6 linked regions of the Homo sapiens genome follow. The protein of the gene in region 5 purifies or fractionates together with the protein of the main gene of each other region. This does not show direct contact. Each region holds a gene or a part of one and is shown on either strand. Other genes may lie near its edges.

The links.
Region 1: the proteins of ARF4 (region 5) and XPNPEP3 purify together in Homo sapiens (co-immunoprecipitation; one large-scale study listed by IntAct). This does not show direct contact.
Region 2: the proteins of ARF4 (region 5) and RAB3IP purify together in Homo sapiens (pull-down; one study listed by IntAct). This does not show direct contact.
Region 3: the proteins of ARF4 (region 5) and ACADM fractionate together in Homo sapiens (co-fractionation; one large-scale study listed by BioGRID). This does not show direct contact.
Region 4: the proteins of ARF4 (region 5) and PSAT1 fractionate together in Homo sapiens (co-fractionation; one large-scale study listed by BioGRID). This does not show direct contact.
Region 6: the proteins of ARF4 (region 5) and LMAN2 purify together in Homo sapiens (affinity purification with mass spectrometry; one large-scale study listed by BioGRID and IntAct). This does not show direct contact.

What each region holds. Positions count from the first base shown.
Region 1 is NC_000022.11:40,884,648-40,888,147, reverse strand, and holds part of XPNPEP3 (xaa-Pro aminopeptidase 3), read right to left. Parts: intron 1,836-3,500; coding exon 1,633-1,835; intron 1-1,632. UniProt on the Homo sapiens protein: Catalyzes the removal of a penultimate prolyl residue from the N-termini of peptides, such as Leu-Pro-Ala. Also shows low activity towards peptides with Ala or Ser at the P1 position.
Region 2 is NC_000012.12:69,759,360-69,762,859, reverse strand, and holds part of RAB3IP (rab-3A-interacting protein isoform alpha 1), read right to left. Parts: intron 1-3,500. UniProt on the Homo sapiens protein: Guanine nucleotide exchange factor (GEF) which may activate RAB8A and RAB8B. Promotes the exchange of GDP to GTP, converting inactive GDP-bound Rab proteins into their active GTP-bound form.
Region 3 is NC_000001.11:75,738,209-75,741,708, reverse strand, and holds part of ACADM (medium-chain specific acyl-CoA dehydrogenase, mitochondrial isoform a precursor), read right to left. Parts: intron 1,730-3,500; coding exon 1,599-1,729; intron 1-1,598. UniProt on the Homo sapiens protein: Medium-chain specific acyl-CoA dehydrogenase is one of the acyl-CoA dehydrogenases that catalyze the first step of mitochondrial fatty acid beta-oxidation, an aerobic process breaking down fatty acids into acetyl-CoA and allowing the production of energy from fats.
Region 4 is NC_000009.12:78,300,125-78,303,624, forward strand, and holds part of PSAT1 (phosphoserine aminotransferase), read left to right. Parts: intron 1-477; coding exon 478-538; intron 539-1,829; coding exon 1,830-1,899; intron 1,900-3,500. UniProt on the Homo sapiens protein: Involved in L-serine biosynthesis via the phosphorylated pathway, a three-step pathway converting the glycolytic intermediate 3-phospho-D-glycerate into L-serine.
Region 5 is NC_000003.12:57,583,845-57,587,344, forward strand, and holds part of ARF4 (ADP-ribosylation factor 4), read right to left. Parts: intron 621-3,500; coding exon 540-620; intron 164-539; coding exon 54-163; intron 1-53.
Region 6 is NC_000005.10:177,341,669-177,345,168, forward strand, and holds part of LMAN2 (vesicular integral-membrane protein VIP36 precursor), read right to left. Parts: intron 1-3,500. UniProt on the Homo sapiens protein: Plays a role as an intracellular lectin in the early secretory pathway. Interacts with N-acetyl-D-galactosamine and high-mannose type glycans and may also bind to O-linked glycans.

The sequences.
Region 1 (3,500 bases), on a different chromosome or scaffold from region 5:
TAGGTAGATTCACAGAGAAAGTAGAGGTTACTGGGGGCTGGAGGAGGGGAGAATGGGAAGTTATTATTTATCTGTACAGTTTCTATTTGGAATGATGGAGAAAGTCGGGAAAAAGTGGGCACAACAATGTGAATGTACTTAATGTCATTGATTTGCATACTTAAAAACGGTTAAAATGATATATTTTATGTTATGCACATTTCACCACAGTAAAAAGATTTTTTTAAATTAAGTCAATGGCCAACACCTTGGAGAGAATAAATGAAATAGGGAGTTTTGGGATAGTTTCTATCAGTTTGCCAGTGAGATTTATGGTTTACACTTGGTCTCTGTGAAAACTCTCGGGGGGCTTTACTGTTACGTAGCAGGAATATGATTATGTGACCAAAAAAACAAAAATCCCTAGCTGAGATTCCATTTTGGAGTCTCTGATTCTGAGGTAGTCTGTTGCATGTGCCATGGACTGAATTGTGTTTCCCGCAGAATTAATGTGTTAAAGCTCTAATCTCTATGTCTTTAGGAGGTAGTTAAGGTTAAATTAGGTAATTAAGGGTGGGGCTCTAATTTGATAGGACCATGGCCTTGTAAAAAGGCCCTCTTTCACTGTCATGTAAGGACACAGCAAGAAAGCCGCCTTCTGTAAGCCGGGAGAGCCCTCACCAGAAATGGACCATGATGGCACCTTGATCTCGGACTTCCAGACTGCAAAATTATGAGACAATACATTTCTCTTGTTTAAGCCATGCAGACTGTGATATTTTGTAATGGCAGCCTGAGCAGAGTATGACAACACTGGTGATTCCTAATCTGTAAGAGAAAGATACATCCTGCCTGGCCCTCACCTAGGGAGGACCAGAGAAGCCTGCACCTGGCTTCTCTAGACTCCTTGCTTTGAGACAGCCATTGGCTGTGATATATATCCTTACTTTCATATTATGGTTATTTTTTACCCTTTTCCTATAATAAACTGCAGATCTGTAAGCATTGTCACTTTGGGTCCTGAGTCTTTCTTAGAACCAAACTGTTTAACTGACACTATTAGTGTAACTATAAGGAAAAGAAACAGTATTAATTTCTGTCGTTCTAAGGAGAAATAATTAAGATTGATGGGTAAAAGAACCATCTTAACAGAAGGCAGATTTACTTTGTCTTGCAAGGTATTAAGCAAGTCTCTAGGTATGTTCACTACACACTGGAGCAGAAGCTAGATGCCATTCTGCGGTGAGGAGACTGCTGCATTGGGTATACGACCTCAAGAGCTTACGATTTTTCCAATCTGGAAAAAACTTTTTCTTTTTTTCTTGTTTTTTTTTTTTTTTTTGAGATGGAGTCTCGCTCTGTCGCCCAGGCTGGAGTGCAGTGGCCCGATCTCGGCTCACTGCAAGCTCTGCCTCCCGGGTTCACACCATTCTCCTGCCTCAGCCTACCGAGTAGCTGGGACTACAGGAGCCCGCCACCATGCCCGGCTAATTTTTTATGTTTTTTTAGTAGAGACGGGGTTTCACCATGTTAGCCAGGATGGTCTCGATCTCCTGACCTCATGATCCACCTGCCTCGGCCTCCCAAAGTGCTTGGATTACAGGCGTGAGCCACCGCGCCCGGCTGGAAAAAACTTTTCAATAGGAATCATACCTGTGATGTCAGCTTCCCAGCAATCTGCATTCGTTCAATTTCTGCAGGAGACTTGATCAGCCGGAGGCGCTGTATCAGCTGCTGAACACCCCGAACCTTGTTCTTGCTCTTGGCTTTGGCCTCAGTCAGGGGCTGCATATAGTCAGAGTGAAGCTGTGCATGTGAGGGCCTCATCCAGTCATACCAAACCATGTTCGTCTCAGCTTAGAATGAGAAGCCGAAAAATAAATTTAAAACAAAACTACCAGCAACAAGAAATATCAACTGTCATAACGACTTGAACAAGAGTCAAAACTATAAAACCTGTAACGTGGAACTCTAAAGTGTTGAGACTTAAGACTCTCTCAGGACTGAAGCAATAAAGGTTTGATTATAAATCATTAGAAAGGTCATTCCCTGGAAATGGCAAGATATTCTAAGACTGAATATACAGCTTTTCTGCCCCTAAACTTCAGTGTTCTTTATAAAGGATGATACGGGACTAAAGCTTTAGTCAAGCTTTGATTTTCTCTCTTTCTCTCTCTCTTTATTTTTGAGATGGAGTCTTGCTCTGTTGCCCAGGCTGGAGTGCAGTGGCACAATCTCAGCTCACTGCAACCTCCGCCTCCCAGGTTCAAACGATTCTTCTGCCTCAGCCTCCCAAGTAGCTGGGACTACAGGTGCCCGCCACCATGCCCAGCTAATTTTTGTATTTTCAGTAGAGATGAGGTTTCACCATATTGGTCAGGCTGGTCTCGAACTCCTGACTTGTGATCCACCCGCCTCAGTCTCCCAAAGTGCTGAGATTACAGGCGTGAATCACCATGCCCGGCCTTCATTATTAAACAATTAGAACAACTGTTCTTCACCACCACTTACTGAGCTAGAGGCACTTGTTGAATAATTGCACACAGAAGGACAGAAAAACATACTCAGATCATGACTTTATGGGTAAAGTGTCCCATCCTTTCACATAATGATCTCAGTACTAGAGGAAAGGGTTCTCCTCCCATTCTGGAGCAATTATTCATTGCTATGGAAAAACTACAGTTGATATTTCCTCACTTCTCCCTTTGCATCTGCTATACATTCTCTTTGTAAACAATCACAGTTCAGCTTTCAACTTTAGAGACCTAAGGAAATGGTCTGTATTTGCCTAAGATATACGATATAAAGGCTCATTATAAAAATGATTTGCACTTAATATCAGATCTACATTTGTTCTTTTTTTCTAACAGTAGGCTACAAACAGTATTCCTAACAATCCAAGTGAGAAGGTCTGAATATTTTATATGACTAAAAAGTACTTTGGGGAAAGTAGAGGGGAAAAAATCCAGAAAACTTTGATTGGATATGCACTGATTCTATGATTCTATGTCCTATGTGATTCTATGTCCTACATATTTTCATTTTTAAAATAAAAATGGTTCTAAATATATACTACATGGGAAACACCTTCCTACTTACGATAGATGGAAATTTAATTGTCGTGTAATTTTTTTTTTTTTTGAGACGTAGTCTTGCTCTGTCACCCAGGCTGGAGTGCAGTGGCGCGATCTCGGCTCACTGCAACCTCCACCTCCCTGGTTCAAGCAATTCCCCTGCCTCAACCTCCCAAGTAGCTGGGATTACAGGCGCATGCCACCACGTCCAGCTAATTTTTTCGTATTTTTAGTAGAGACGGGGTTTCACCATGTTGTCCAGACTGGTCTCGAACTCCTGATCTCAGGCAATCCACCTCCCTTGGCCTCCCGAAGTGCTGGGATTACAGGCGTGAGCCACTGCACCCGGCCAATTGTTGTAATTTTTAAAAAGTAAAACAATCTCTACTACACGTTCAAAGTGTATGAAATCATAGCTCACTTTTTTAAAGGTTTTTAAACCTTTCA
Region 2 (3,500 bases), on a different chromosome or scaffold from region 5:
CTCTTTGCAAGCTATCCTACTGGGCTTTATTTTCTAAGTCATTTCATTTTCTTTTTCTTTTTCTCTTTTTCTCTTTTTTCTTTTTTTTTTTTTTTTTTTTTTTGAGACGGAGTCTCCCTCTGTTGCCTAGGCTGGAGTGCAGTGGCGCAATCTCAGCTCACTGCAAGCTCCACCTCCTGGGTTCACGCCAGTCTCCTGCCTCAGCCTCCCAAGCAGCTGGGACTACAGGCGTCTGCCACCACACCTGGCTAATTTTTTGTATTTTTAGTAGAGAAGCGGTTTCACCGTGTTAGCCAGGATGGTCTCGATCTCCTAACCTGGTGATCTGCCCGCCTCGGCCTCCCAAAGTGCTGGGACTACAGGCGTGAGCCACTTCGCCCAGCTCATTTTCTTTTAAGAAAAATAAAAGTTTAAAATAACCTCTTACAGCAGATTTCACCTTTTAGTGAATGTAAGAATCAACAAGTTTGATGAAAATGCATATTCCCAAACCTCAACACAATAATTTGATTTCAGCAGATCTGGAGTAGAGTGCAAGGATCTATACTTAATAAGAATGCACTAAAGCCCAATTTCCTCCTGAGAATTCCACTAAAAGCTGCTCTTCAGAAATATCCTATGGAAGGCCAAACAGCTAAATGACTACATCATAATCTCTGGCATCCCTGCACCTGAAAATAAGTGACCACATGATTGGTCCCCCTACACACACAGTATGGATTTGTTGCTGGGAAGTGGTTGTCCATCCAGGGATTACATTACCCAGCCCACCATACATCTAGGTATTGGCATGAAAGGTTCACACCAATAGAATGTGAGCAAAAGTGATGTGTATCATATCTAAGCCAAGGTTTTTTAGAAGAAGCTGTACCTTCTCTAAGCTGTCTTTCCCTTTTGTCTCATTGGTTAGATACAAATAACAATAAAACCCTAAGAAATTACAAAGGCCCCAAACAGAAGAGAAACAGATCTCTGAATTATTTCACAGAGAACTGCCTACCAACTATGAACATCTGCTTCAGAGTGTTAAATGAATAAAAATGAACTTCTATTAGGTAAAGTCACGAAAATTTGGGGGTTACTTATAAGCATCACCCTAATATATCAGGCATGTGTGTATACAAACACTTGTATAACCGCATATACATGTATATATTCATTTAATCAACAAAATGTATTGAAAACCCATTATATGCTCAAGATATAATCATGAGCACAAACATATGCAATCCTTATCCTCATGAATCTCAGAAGTACTGAAGCATGTGTGTATAAATGCAGGTTTTTCTATGTGGATTACTTGAATGGGGTAGACAATGAAGTAATATAAATGAGTAAGTAGAACTTTCACTTCCAATTAAGATAGAGGAACAGGGATTAGATTTACCACCCATCTGACACAACTAAAACTCTGAAAAAATATATGGATCAACAATTTGAAGCATTTGATATTAGGCAATAAAAGACAGTGATCCCCTAGAAATGAAAAACAAAATGTGCACCCCAGATCTGCCCCAGCTTATTATCTGAAGAGATGAAATAATTAGAAACAAAACATTTATTAAACTGCATCCCAACATATTAAGCAGAGCAAGCAAAGTATAAAAAAGATCCAAATCAAACTTTCAGAGATGAAAACTACAATGTCTAGTTTAAAAACATACTGTATGGGATTAACAGATTAGATATTTCAGAAGAAAAGAGTAGTGACTTTGAAGACATAGCAATAGAAACTACCCACAATGAAACACAGTGAGGAAAAAAAGATTTTTAAATGAAAGACTGTAACACCAGCAAGCTGTGAGATAAGTTTAAGCAGTCTAATGTACATGTAATAGGAATCCAGAGGAAAGGAGAGAGAGAGGAAGAATGGAAAACTTTTTGAAGATATAAAGGCCAAAATTTCCCAAATTTTATGAAAACTAACAACCTACAGCTTCAAGAAGCTCAATAAATCCCAAACATAAGAAAGCTGAAGAAACTACACCAAAGCAAATCACAATCACATTGCTTATGCCAGTGAGAGAGGACTCTCATAAGCAGCCAGAGAGAAAAGACCTAATACGCAGAGGAACAAAGGTAAGGGTAACAGCAGACTTCTTGTGAGAAACAATGTACATGCTTGAAAACACTGAAGCAACATCTTTACAGTAACAAAAAAAAAAAAATTATCAATCTTAAATTCTTTACTCAGTGAAAATATCTTTCAAAAACCAAAAATGAACACAGACATACAAAAGCTAAAAGAATTTATCACCATCAAACATGCACAACAAAAATGTAAAAGGATGTCCTTCAAGCCAAAGGAAAAATGATACGAGTTGGAAATCTGGATCCACATGAAGAAATGAATACCAAAGGAATGAACACACAGAGCAAGTCCCCAAACGGATCCTGAGCAAGAGGAGAGTTGGAGGCTCTCCCTCTCCCTCTCCCTCTCCCCACAGTCTCCCTCTCCCTCTCCCCACGGTCTCCCTCGCCCTCTCTTTCCACGGTCTCCCTCTGATGCCGAGCCAAAGCTGGACTGTACTGCTGCCATCTTGGCTCACTGCAACCTCCCTGCCTGATTCTCCTGCCTCAGCCTGCCGAGTGCCTGCTATTGCAGGCGCACGCCGCCACGCCTGACTGGTTTTCGTATTTTTTTGGTGGAGACGGGGTTTCGCTGTGTTGGCCGGGCTGGTCTCCAGCTCCTAACCGTGAGTGATCCGCCAGCCTCGGCCTCCCGAGGTGCCGGGATTGCAGACGGAGTCTCATTCACTCAGGGCTCAATGTTGCCCAGGCTGGAGTGCAGTGGCATGATCTCGGCTAGCTACAACCTCCACCTCCCAGCCGCCTGCCTTGGCCTCCCAAAGTGACGAGATTGCAGCCTCTGCCCGGCCGCCACCCCGTCTGGGAAGTGAGGAGCGTCTCTGCCCGGCCACCCATCGTCTGAGATGTGGGGAGCGCCTCTGTCCAGCCGCGACCCCGTCTGGGAGGTGAGGAGCGTCTCTGCCCGGCAGCCCCGTCTGAGAAGTGAGGAGCCCCTCCGCCCGGCAGCCGCCCCGTCCGGGAGGGAGGTGGGAGGTCAGCCCCCGCCCGGCCAGCCGCCCCATCCGGGAGGGAGGTGGGGGGTCAGCCCCCGCCCGGCAGCCGCCCCGTCCGGGAGGGAGGTGGGGGGTCAGCCCCTGCCCGGCCAGCCGCCCCGTCCGGGAGGTGGGGGTTCAGCCCCCGCCCAGCCAGCCGCCCCGTCCAGGAGGGAGGTGGGGGGCGCCTCCGCCCGGCCGCCGCCCCGTCCGGGAGGTCGGAGGCGCCTCTGCCCGGCCGCCCCTTCTGGGAAGTGAGGAGCTCCTCTGCCCGGCCACCACCCCGTCTGGGAGGTGTACCCAACAGCTCATTGAGAACGGGCCATGATGACGATGGCGGTTTTGTGGAATAGAAAAGGGGGAAAGGTGGGGAAAAGATAGAGAAATCAGATTGTTGCTGTGTCTGTGTAGAAAGAAGTAGACATAGGAGACTTCATT
Region 3 (3,500 bases), on a different chromosome or scaffold from region 5:
ATAGTAACAAAATCGTAAAAATTGTTATCTGGTTTCATATATTACCTAATTTGCCTTACTATATGAACAGTGAACAGTTGTAATCAGTTCTTTCTTTTTGTTTTAATTTTGTAAAGATGGGGTCTCGTTATGTTGCCCAAGCTGGTCTTGAACCCCTGGGCTCAAGCAATCCTCCTGCCTCAGCCTCCAAAACTGCTGGGATTGTAGACGTGAGTGATTGCACCTGGCTAATCCGTTTTTAAAATTACGAAAACTTCAAACTGCATTGTTAGATTTCTCTCAACTTGTTAAATTTTAATAGTTTCTTCACTTTTTATTAGTTGCTGATATTACCAGGAATTGGTTAAAGGTAAAGATATAGCACTCCATAATACTGAATATATTTAGGATGCTCATAAGGAATTGACTGATATGTTTAATCTAAGTAACTTTTTAGTAGGCTCACTCTGAAAAAAAATGATGTTTTATTTGCTAGAAAACTGTAGTATATGGCACACAAATATATTGAATCTGAATTTTTTACAAAGAGAGACAGGTCATTTAGTACATTATTCCAATCAATAAAAAGTTATTCTAGAAACTCTCTATATACTTGTAGTGATGGGTAAATACAGTATTTCCCATGACAACTTAACAGCACTGCTGATAGAAAGCCTGTCCTTATGTTAAGCTAAATTCTACATTTTTCTAACTTTCACTCATTAATTCTAAGCTGGCATCCTGAAGTAAACATATAAGCCTGATCATCTTTCTGTGTAATAATATTTGAAAAACTTCAAGATTCTTCCAAAATAACCAAGGCTTTGCTTTTCAGAACATGTTTTGTAGGCTCCTCCTAATGCAAGATACTTACATGCTTCTAGATTTAGTCAAGTTTTTCAATACATGTTTTAAAATGTGTTGCCCAGAACTGTCACCATTTTTTCTCTATTTGATGCTGTACTTCTATTACTTTGGCTTAAAATTACATTGGCTTTTTAAAGGCTCATACTATTGATTCTTATTGAACTTAACAGTTATTGAACTTTCCTCATCTTTTATCAACAAATAATCGAGTGTTTTTTTTTAGTATTTTATATTTATACAAATTATTTTTGATCCTTTGTTGAACTTCATATTTTTTGACCATATATTAGAAAATTTCAGATTTTATTAAAGTCAAATTCTGTCTTCTCTAATAGATAACCTGTTTTAAGACTGACTCTGTTTATTTCTGACATCTGGAGACAGGCACTATACCAAAGGTTCTCCTTTTTCCTTAGGGTTTTAGGGATTCCAAGGAGCGGCTGGTATAGGAGATGAGGAGTGGAGATAATAAGCCAAGTAGACAGAGTGCTAGCCTTCCTAATCAGATTCAAACAGAGCACGCATTTGTATTTTATTTTACACATTAAACTTCTGAGAGTTAATTTGAAAAAACAGTGCAGGGGCTTAAAATTAGTTTTTGAAAATCACTGAACTGTTTATAATCTCCTTTAGGCCTTCCAGTTCCACAAACATACCTTAACTGTAGTGGTTTAAAAATATACAGAAAGAAAGAGAGATTTGAAGATAAAACAATTAAGAAAAAATATACAAAGATGTTTTGAACAACATACCAATTAGCTTTTCCTCCGTTGGTTATCCACATCTTCTGACCATTAATAATATACTCATCTCCTTTCTTTTCTGCTTTGGTCTTTATACCAGCTACATCAGAGCCTGCTCCAGGTTCTGTTACACAATAAGCCTTGAATATATAAAAACAAGAGAAATGAAATTAAATGTTAGTGATTAAATTTTGACTGTTTGGAAACAGGATTGTTTTATTTTTTAAGCTGTATTTTAAATATTTTTAAATATCTAAAATTAAAATGTTCTTACAAAATCAAAGAAACCACTCAAATGTAAAAACTTTTCTGTTTTGTTTGTAAGAGACAGGGTCTCACTCTCTTGCCCAGGCTGGAATGCAGAGGCTCAATGCAGTCTTGGCTTCCTGGACTCAGGAAATCCTCCCGCCTCAGCCTCCCGTGTATAATAGCTGAGACTGCAAGCACACATCACCATGCCCAGCTAATTTTAAATTTTTTGTAGACATGGCATCTCACTGTGTTGCCTAGGCTGGTCTCAACCTCCTGGGCTCAGGCAATCCTCTGCCTCAGCCTCCCAAAGTGCTGGGACTACAGGTATGAGCCACAGTGCCTGGCCTAAAAACACTTAATATATAATTCAAATTAGGCATAGGTATATCAACAAATCATATATTTAATAAAAAGTGAAAATGTTAGATAGCTTTAAACAAGTTCATTAAATTCAATTTCACATGTATTCATTCATGCAAACATGTATTGAATATCTACTATGTACCACGATGTAAATTAGGATATGGGGAAACCAGAGGTAAAAGACATTCAGTCCTAGAGATTTTCACAATGTAACAGTGAAGATAAATAACTATACTGCAACTCTATGTGTGAAAGTCAGACAAGGGGCTTGAGAAACTAGTTTCCCAGGGCAGAGGATGTTTAAATTAAGTCTCAAAAAGGAAAATGGCTTCTTTGCGAGGAGGGAAAAAGAGGAAGAATATGCATTCCAGGTACAAGTAATGGCATATGCTATGACACTAAGATAAGAAACAGAGTTACCCAGTGTTTCTAATGCTGAAAGTACCAGAGTTCCACAGTATGTAAATTCTGTGCATGTAAGGGAATGGTAAGACATGAGTCTGGAAAGAAAGGAAGGAAATGGTCGACGAGAATCTTTTATATCACATTACAAATTTAAAATTTTATCTGGTAGAAACAGGGGAGCCTCTTAGAGCTCTTAAACAGAGGAGTGACAAGACACAAGCAGTAATGGATAAAAGGGGGTGGTAGAAGGCAAGTGTTAGTGCAAGTTAATTCAAGAGTGGCCGGTACTGTGGATACTAAAGAAACAAGTTACTTGCCCTTAAGGTACTTACAGTCCAAAGAAGAAAGAAACTGGGCCGAGCATGGTGGCCCCCCACCTGTAATCCTAGCATTTTGTGAGGCTGAGATGGGAGGATCGCTTGAGACCAGGAGTTCAAGACCAGCCTGGTCAACATGCCGAGAACCCATGTCAATTTATTTTTTAAAAATATACAACAAAAAAGAAAGAAACTATATACATTTTAATTCAAAGTAGTAAGCATATATAGGGGCACTAGAAATGATTACTTAGGGCCGGGCGTGGTGGCTGAGGCTTCAGGTTTGTAATCCCAGCACTTTGGGAGGCCGAGGCAGGTGGGTCACCTGAGGTTAGGAGTTCGAGACCAGCCTGGCCAACATGGTGAAACCCTGTCTCTACTAAAAATACAAAAACTTAGCCAGGCTTGGTGGCGGGCGCCTGTAATCCCAGCTACTTGGGAGGCTGAGGAAGAATTGCTTGAACCTGGGAGGTGGAGGTTGCAGTGAGCCGAGATGGTGCCACTGCACTCCAGCCTAGGCAACAGAGCGAGACTCCATTTCAGAAAAAAAAAATAATAACAATACTTGGCTGGG
Region 4 (3,500 bases), on a different chromosome or scaffold from region 5:
TGGGACGAATCTTATTCACAGCAGGCTCTTCCTTCTTCCTGCCCACCCCACGCTTCCCAGTCTAGCACCTTAGACCAAAAGAGATCGGAAAATTGAGTTACCTGTATAATCTGGGCATAATTTTTTTATCGTTGTCCCTTTAACCCAGAACTTTATGCATTCTTTACTTTAGCTTTAGGAGAGTGGTGAATGAGATTTGTGAAGGGGACATTTTCTAGGGAATCGGTAAATTCGGGCCTTTGGAAAAAGTGTATCAACATCAGTCACATTGCCTAATTTCATGCTTACCTTGTGTGTAAGTTGCATAATCGCTGGCTTTGTGGACATGGGAAGGAAGGAGACTGGCTGTGGGTGGGGATGGAAGCCTGGGGACCTCACTGTAGACCCTTCCTTGTCCCCTCGTCAGGTTTGTATGTTCAGAGGGAAAGCAGTGCAGAACATATTTAAATAACCCTATTTTCCTTTATTTTTTTCTAGGTGTTGTTAGAGATACAAAAGGAATTATTAGACTACAAAGGAGTTGGCATTAGTGTTCTTGGTAAGATTTACTTTTGAATTCTGTGAATGTCCATGTTTCAAAGGAAGCTTTTTTTTTTTTTTTTTTTTTTAGAGGCAGGGTCCTGCTCTGTCACCCAGGCTGGAGTACAGTGGCGTGATCATAGTTCACTGCAGCCTCCAACTCCTGGGCTCAAGTGACCCTCCTGCCTCAGCATCCTGAGTAGCTAGGACTATAGGTACACATCACCACACCTGGCTAATTTTTTTTAAATGTTTAAAACATTTTTTAAAGATCCCATGAGATGGGATCTCACTTTGTTGCCCAGGCTGATCTGAAACTCGTGGCCTGAAGCCATCCTCCCACATTGGCCTCCCAAAGTTTTGGGATTACAGGCTTGAGCCACTGAGCCCTGGCCCAAAGGGAACTAATTTAAATGCATCAAATATAGAATTACAGGGCCTATAGGGTCTTCCTATAGGCCTTTATAGATACATTTTTAAACTTTAATAGCTTGGGTTGCATGTCTGATAGAAACCATTTTGAAAATAGCATAAATGCTGGTGAGAGGTTCTGACATCTCAGCTTACCCTGTCATAATTGGTTTTTGCTAATCATAGGATTTAGGATCAGAAGATACTGTATATTTGCATAACAGTGCCTCCAAACATTTATAATATTGCTTTACATTCAATTTACAGTTTTTATTATACTTAAATACAACCTCATTAAAGTTTAAAAGTACATAAGCCTTTTATGAAGACCTCGCACATTGATAATCTTATTAAGTTTCCCCTATATTTTTTGGGAAGAGGACCTCTGCATTCTAAAACTTATTTTCTTTTATTTTTGGCGGTTCTGAAGACTGCATGGTATTAAGAGACCATAGGGTTAACTATATTGCTTATTTCTGTTAAATTTTGCTCCTGTTGGTTTGGGACATATACTTAGATTTCTGTGAAGTGAGATCACAGCATGGAATTTTGTGCTCCAGACCTAAAGGGCAACTGTTGCACATGGATTCCTGTTTGTGAGAAAGAGATGGTAAGAAGAATCACAGAGAGCATCACGGAGTGATGAATTAATAAATAACTTGCTCAGTGAATGTACCACTTGAAAAATCCTTCTGCCATGACTATAAAGCTAAAATGTTTGCAATTTGAAAATCAGTTTGTATGGTCCCCTAAACTAAGTGAGCCTTGGCCCACAATTTGAATGCAGAATAACTGAAATTTCCCTGTATTGTTGTTTACTTGCAAATTTCGTAGGTATTTCTGTTCATTTGGTTTTGAGCTGGAATATTTGTTATTGTTGTTTATCTTTCCTTTCACAGAAATGAGTCACAGGTCATCAGATTTTGCCAAGATTATTAACAATACAGAGAATCTTGTGCGGGAATTGCTGTAAGTTTTAAAAAGACCAAATCATGTTACTTTTGTTAGATACTTCCTAAATCTGGATGTCTTCCAGTATTTTCTACACTCTATTGTTTGTTCAGAATATTTCATAATTTAAAATAATCCTTGTAAGATTCTCTCCAATTCACTATTAGTACCTAACGCTTTTTATTTGTTCCCCATCCCGTGTTTATATGTTTTTGTTTTTATTTTATGTGATATTTCCAAAGATTTGAAATCATTGTATCTAGGAATGATTTTTCAGCACTGTGGCAGTTAAACTGGTGTGAAAGAGATGTAAATGACACAGAAATGGTCATCTTTGTCAGCATAATTGACTATAAACTAGTTCAGGTGTTCTCGAAGTTTGAGTCTCATACGATCTGTCAGAGTCACCTGGTTAGGGGGAATATTAAAAAATTCAAGTGGGGCCGGGCAAGGTGGCTCATGCCTGTAATCCCAGCACTTTGGGAGGCCGAGGCGGGTGGATCGTGAGATCAGGAGATCAAGACCATGCTGGCTACCACGGTGAAACCCCATCTACTAAAAATACAAAAAAAGAAAAAATTAGCTGGGCATGGTGGCGCATACCTGTATTCCCAGCTATTCGGGAGGCTGAGGCAGGAGAATCGCTTGAACCAGGGAGGCGGAGTTTGCAGTGAGCCGAGACCGTGCCACTGCATTCCAGCTTAGGTGACAAAGCGAGACTCCGTCTCAAAAAAAAAAAAAAAAAAAAAAAAAAAATCAAGTGGTGGGCACCACTTAGTCCTGCTGAATCAGAATCTCTGGAGAGACTTTATTTTTAACAGGCTCTTTGGGTAATTGTAAGAGTTCTGAACTGTAGGAACTACTGCTTAGACGAAATCTCCTGGGTTATCTGTACTGCCTTTCCTATCCAGAGAATCCCTTATTCTTAAATAGATTGCTATTTAAAGGAGAGATTTTTATATATTATATAAACATGTTCACATAAACCTACGAATATAGCAAGTTTGAAAGCATACCATTTTTTTTCCTGCTCACAGAAATAATGCACATTTATGGTAGGAAAAACACTGTAGCTCACAACTAAACTGAAATTAACTTTAACCCCACTAATCAGGGATAATCACTAATATGTTAGGACCCATTCTTGCATTATTACATTAACAAAATTGGAATTATACTGATTATTTCAAGTTTTCTTTTTCAAATTGCTTGATAAAATGATTCAGATGGGGCAGGCTTGGTGATATTTCTGTGAGGAGCTGTAGACGCTAATTGCAATGTGAATGTTCAGAGCTGGTAGCCATCTGCTTGGCTTCTCTCGTCCATTGGCCTGCTGAGTATCATGTCACATTCATAGGACAATCCTGTCCTTCATGGAGTGGGTATTTGGAACATCAGCCTGGGAGAGATGACATTTGACCACATGGCTATGAACTTCCTCTGACTGGGGTCCCAGTTCAATTTAAGGGCCTATCTTTTCTTCTCCTAACCTGGTTCCCACCTTGTATACCTGTACCTAGACCTCGGCCTGGTTTCTTTCCATCTAATTCTTGGCCTTGTTAACTGCCCTGCATCTGAATAATGTGAACCTGGAACTCTGTCTTGGGTTATCAGTCTTC
Region 5 (3,500 bases):
TTAGAGCATGAAACCCACAAAGAAAAGTTATAAAAACATACAGTATCCCTTACCTGGGTATTCTGGAAGTAATGCTTCCAGAGAGGCCTAATTCTATCTTGACCACCAACATCCCATACTGTGAAACAAATGTTCTTATATTCTACTGTTTCCACATTAAAACCTACAAAGAAAAACAAAAATGACCGCTGTGCAGCGTCATTAAGAAAATAAAACCTTTTATTGTGGAATTTTCTTAGAATAGTGTTTTTAAAGTACTTCTTTTTATTTTTAAAAAATATATTTAAGCCTAAACATCAACAGAGACAAGGCCTCATTATGTTATGCAGGCTGGTCTTGAACTCCTGGGCTCAAGCAATCCACCCGCCTCGGCCTCCCAAAGTGCTGGGATTACAGGCATGAGCCACCACACCCGGCCTGTTTTAAAAGTACTTCTAAGATAATCAACATGCTTAACAAAAAGACAATCTCAAAACTAGACTGTATATATTTCACTTTACAACATATCATGATATAAAGTCATCTGTAAACTTTCTTACCAATGGTAGGAATGGTGGTGACTATCTCCCCTAACTTCAGTTTATACAGAATGGTTGTCTTGCCAGCAGCATCCAATCCAACTAGAAGAAGACATTATAGATTTAAAATCCAGACCAAAAGCACACTCCAAGAAATAATTTTACAATAAATTTATAGTTCAAAACTAGAAGTTGACTGTTCAAGACAACTTCTAAATGAGTTAGAAATGAAATGACCTTATTTCTGATTCCCAAAGGCAACACTTCCTACAGAAAGCCTTTCCATTCTGCTTTCTAGACCAAGAGAGACAGCATGTACTAGTAAAAGGTAACAAGTATGTAGCTGACTTAGGCTCTAATCTCTAGCTTTGCGACAAACTAGTTGAGTGACTTTAGGACACTGAGACCAGAGAAATTAGCCATAAATAAAGGGACTGGATCAGATCATCTAAGATCTCTTCCAATTAAATTCTATGAACTACCAGCATTTTTTGGGGGGTGGAGGGGCAGGGGAGCGGGGGGACGTATTCTCGCTCTGTTGTCCAGGCGGGAGTGAAGTGGCATGATCTCAGCTCACTGTAACCTCCACCTCCCGGGTTCGAGCAATTCTCCTGCCTCAGCCTCCCAAGTAGCTGGGACTACAGGCGCCCACCACCACGCCCGGCTAATTTTTGTATTTTTAGTAGAGACGGGGTTTCACCATGTTGGCCAGGCTGGTCTCAAACTCCTGGCCTCAAGTGATCTGCCAGCCTGGGCCTGCCAATGTGCTGGGATTACAAGCGTGAGCCACCGTGCCCAGCCATACTACCATTTTTAAAAACACAAATTAGAAGTTGATTCAGACAACATGTAAGTGAATAAAGAATTCTTAAGATTTGTAAAAATATTTTCTCTTATTTACAGAGTAAAATTTGGGTAACAGATTTTGATGCTAAGGGGTAAAAAATACACTGGTATAAGTATGTCCTAGTGGTATAACTATGTTCTAATGAACTTAATGTAACTATGTCCTAGTGACCTTATAATGATAATAAAGGAAGATGAAGCCAATTTTACCCCTGCTTAAATCCATTTCAACATTAAATGTGCCAAAATGAAAACCAAAGTCTGATTAACCTGTTATAAAAATGGCCCTATCACATTACCTAATGTAAACAACGAGTTAATGGGTGCAGCACACCAACATGGCACATGTATACATATGTAACAAACCTGCACATTGTGCACATGTACCCTAGAACTTAAAGTATAATAATAAAAGACCCTATCACATTCATCTACAATATAAGTAATATCTAAATTCTTTTTTTTTTTTTTTGAGACAGAGTATCACTCTGTCACCCAGGCTGAAGTGCAATGGTGCAATATCAGCTCACTGCAACCTCCATCTCCCAGGTTCAAGCGATTCTCCTACCTCAGCTTCCGGAGTAACTGGGATTACAGGTGCGTGCCACCACACCCCAGCTAATTTGTATTTTTAGTAGAGACGGGGTTTCACCATGTTGGCCAGGCTGGTCTTGAACTCCTGACCTCGGGTGATCTGCCCGCCTCAGCCTCTCAAAGTGCTGTGATTACAGATGTGAACCACTGTGTCCGGCCTAAATTCTTAAAATGATTCAGTTGAGGCAGAAGTACAAGTAGGGAGGAATGTGTTTGCTTGTGAAAAAAAATCCACACTAGAACAAGAGGCTATACCTCCTTGTAGGGTGACAGTGAAGAACAAATTAAATGCTTGTAAGTATGAATCTCTCAAAACCTGAATATTCTGCAGTGTTTGCTAAAGCCCTCATAAATGAAAGATCAACATCTAATAACCTCATTGAATCTATCATTGTTCTTAGGATATCATATCTGGCCGCCTGGGTTTATCTTATCACAGATTTTTGTATCGATTCAATCAAGTATTGATTTAAGCAAGGACACTTTCTTAATATTTAAATCAAAGCATGACTTAGCACATAAAAGCAATGCTAGTAAGTTAAAAAAGAGCTGAAATTATCTCACTTATCTAATTTACATTCCTATGCAAGTAAGTCTATCTTTTATCAGTTAGTCCAAAACAGAAGCGAAGGCTACAGGCAATTCTGATTCCTTCTACCCTCTTAACAACCCTTTCTACTCTGTACCCTACCAAGAATAACTTTAAGTTCTTTTTGGAGACTCAAGCCTTTTATTCCTTTGTCCTGTAAAACCCTGTTCCCCACTTCGTACTCGGATACAGGTTTATTCCTTCCCAACTACTAGTCAGTGTGATCAGCCCACATCAAGCCCTCATTCATGAGCATAATAATAAAAACCAACTGTTATACAAGTGTTTTATTTTTTGAGCATGGAACATTATCAAAAAAATCAGAAAACATAATTCTAAAAAATACATAAAAAGGAGCTACATTAAAGTTTGGCATCTTTAGTAACAAGATATAAAACAAAGGGGGGTGGCAAAAAACAACTGGATCTTTAAATGGTCCAACAAAGCTGTCTCTTGAAAGCATCAGATTTTTAAGTTAACCAAAATTAACCTTTAAGTTCAAATATGATTAAGCCAAGTCAGAATTGAAACTGAGACGCTGATTAAGAAACACACACACACACGCACACACACAAAACTATGGTACCTGCCAGTTATCACCGGAGGTCCAACTGGACCTCAGATTGTCATTTAAAAACAAGGTAAGGCCTGGCGCTGTGGCTCATGCCTGTAATCACAGTACTTTGGGAGGCTGAGGTGGGCGAATCACCTGAGGCCAGGAGTTTGAGACCAGCCTGGCCAACATGGTAAAATCCCGTCTCTACTAAAAATACAGAAACTAGCTGGATGTGGTGGCATATGCCTATAATCCCAGATACTCTGGAGGCTGAGGCAGGAGACTCGCTTGAACCCAGGAGGCGGATGTTGCAGTGAGCCGAGATCGTGCCATTGCACTACAGCCTGGACAACAAGAGCGGAACTCAGTCTCAAAAAAAAAAAAAAAAAAAAAAAGT
Region 6 (3,500 bases), on a different chromosome or scaffold from region 5:
ATCCAGATGTAAAGTCAGATTCCAGAAGGAACGAAGAACAACAAATACAGTGACTATAAGGGTGAAAATCTAAATATCTGACTGCACAAAACAATGGGTTGTGTGATTTAAAACAGAAATAATTAAAACAAATGACAACAATAAATGGAGTTAAAGTGTGTTAGGATCCTTGCACTGTCCAGGAAGAAGGTAAAGTACACATTATCATTAGTCTTTGGTACAACATGAATGCCTGCTTTAAATTCTAGGGTGACCACTTAAAACTGAGAAAAGAGCATATAACTTTCAAGCTAATAGAAGAGGAAAAATAGGATAATAAAAATTAACCTAAAAGAAGACTAGAGAGAAAAATGAACAGAGAATAGGCAATTTGAATATATAGAGTAAGATAGCAGATTAAACCCAAATGTATCATATTTCATTAAATGTAAATGGACTAAATGCTAAATAAAAAAACAAAACCCAAGGGCACCTAGGATCTCTGTATTATTTCCTGCAACGGCATGTGAATTTATAATTATGTCAAAATAAAAAGTTTAATTTGAAAAGTAAAGAGGCCAGGTGCAGTAGCTCATACCTGTAGTCCCAGCACCTTGGGAGGCCATCATGGGAGGTTTGCTTGAGCCAAGGAGTTCAAGACCAGCCTGGGCAACACAGCAAGACTCCATCTCTATAAAAAAAAATAATAATAAGTATATAAAGATCAGAGATCTAAACTTAAGAGCTCAAACCTGGCCGGTTGCAGTGGCTCACACCTGTAATCTGAAACACTTTGGGAGGCTGAGGCAGGTGGATCACCAGAGCGCAGAAGTTCAAGACTAGCCCAGGCAACACGGTGAAAACCTGTCTCTACAAAAAAATACAAAAATTAGCTGGGCCTGACTGCGCATGCCTGTAGTCCCAGCTACTTGTGGGGCTGAGGCAGGAGGATCACTTGAGCTGGAGAGGTCAAGGCTGCAGTGAGCCGTGTTCACGCCACTGCACTCCGGCCTAGGCAATAAAATGAGACCCTGCCTCAAAAAACAATAAACAAACCAACAAAAAAACCCTTTAAAACTCTTAGAAGAAAATCTAGGGAAAAAATGTTCATGACACTGGATTTAGTAAAGATTTCTTGGATATAGCACCAAAAGCACAGACAAAAAAAAAAAAAAGATAAATTGTACTTCACTAAAACTAAAATTTTTGTACATCAAAGAGCATGATCAAGAGGGTGAAAAGACAACCCACAGAATAGGAGAAAATATTTGCAAATCACATATCTGATAAGGGATTAATATCTAGAATATATTAAAAAACCCTAGGCCGGGCGCGGTGGCTCATGCCTGTAGTCCCAGCACTTTGGGAGGCCAAGGCGGGCAGATCACGAGGTCAAGAGATGGAGACCGTCCTGGCTAACACGGTGAAACCCTGTCTCTACTAAAAATATTAAAAAAATTAACTGGGCATGGTGGCAGGCACCTGTAGTCCCAGCTATTCGGGAGGCTGAGGCAGGAAAATCACTTGAACCCGGGAGGCAGAGGTTCCAGCGAGCCGAGATCGCGCCACTGCACTCCAGCCTGGCGACAGGGCGAGACTTCATCTCAATAAATAAATAAATAATAACAAATGTTGGCAAGGATGTGGAGAAATTGGAATCCTTGTGCATTGCTGGTGGGAATATAAAATGGTGCAGTTGCTACAGAAAACCGTTTGGTAGTCCTCAAAAAAGTAAAAATAGAATGACCGTATGATCCAGAGATTCTACTTCCTGGGTATATACCCAAAAGAACTGAAAGTAGGATTCAAACAGATACTTGTATACCAATGTTCACTGCAGCACTATTCACAATGGCAACAGATGGAAACAACCCAAGTGTCCATTACGAATAGATGAATACACGGAATGTGGTCTAGACACACACACACACACACACACACACACACGAATATTACTCAGCAACAAAAAGGAATGCAGTACTGACATATACTACAGTATGGAGGAACGTTCAACATATGCTCAGTAAAATAAGTCAAAGAAGACAAATATTGTATGCCTCCATTTATCATTTATGTGAGATGCCTAGAATAGTCAAATTTACAGAGATGAGGTAGAATGGTGGTTACCAGGGACTGTGGGGATGGGAGTGATTGTTAAATGGGTAGAGAGTTTCAGTTGGGATGAGCAAAGAGTTCTGGAGACAGACGGTGGTGATGGCTACACAGCAATGTGAATGCACTTAATGCCACTGACCTGTACACTTAAAAATGGTTAAAATGGGCCAGGCGCAGTAGCTCACGCCTGTAATCCCAGCACTTTGGGAGGCCAAGGCAGGAGGATTGCTTGAGGCCAGGAGTTCGAGACCAGCCCGGGGCAGCATAGTGAGACCCCAGCTCTACAAAAAATTAAAAAAAAAAAAATTAGCCAGGCACAATAGCACATGCCTTGTAATCCCAGCTACTCAGGACACTAAGCAGGAGGATCACTGGACTCCAGGAGTTCGAGGCTGCAATGAGCTAGGATTGCACCACTGCACTCCAGCCTCCGTGACAAAGTGAGACCCCCCCCATCTCTAAAAAAAAAAAAATTTTTTTTTAATTTTAAAAACTGGTTAAAATGGTACGCTTTGTTACTTTTTTTTTTTTTTTTTTTTTTGAGACAGAGTCTTGCTCTGTCGCCAGGGTGGAGTGCAGTGGCGTGATCTCAGCTCACTGCAACCTCTGCCTCCCTGGTTCAATTCTCCTGCCTCAGCCTCCTGAGTAGCTGGGATTACAGGAACACGCCACCATGACCAGCTAATTAGTTGTATTTTTAGTAGAGACGGGGTTTCACCATGTTGGCCAGGATGGTCTTGATCTCCTGACCTCGTGATCCACCTACCTCGGTCTCCCAAAGTGCTGGGATTATAGGCGTGAGCCACCGCGCCCAGCCTGTGTTACATACATTTTATCACAATAGAAATATTTGAGAAATTTGACCAGATGCAGTGGCTCACACCTGTAATCCCAGCACTTTGGGAGGCCGAGGCAGGCAGATCACCTGAGGTCAGGAGCTCAAGACCAAGCCTGGCCAACATGGTGAAACCTCGTCCTACTAAAAATACAAAAATTAGCCGGGTGCGGTGGCGGGCGCCTGTAGTCCCAGCTACTAGGGAGGCTGAGGCAGGAAAATCACTTGAACCCGGGAGGCAGAGGTTGTGGTGAGCCGAGATCGCGCCACTGCACTCCAGCCTGGGCAACAGAGTGAGACCCTGTCTCAAAAAAAGAAAAGAAAAGAAAAGAAGAGAAAGAAGAGAAGAGAAAAGAAAAGGAAGAAAGATTTGAGAAATTTTCTTGCATGTGCAGATGTGTACGTACAACAGTGGAAACATTTTTTTACATAGCCATGACATCTTTTAAATGCCATTGTCAGGCTGGGCGCAGTGGCTCATGCCTGTAATCCCAGCACTCTGGGAGGGCAAGGTGGGTGGACTGCTTGAGCCCAGAGTTCACGACCAGCCTAGTCAACATGGTGAAACCCT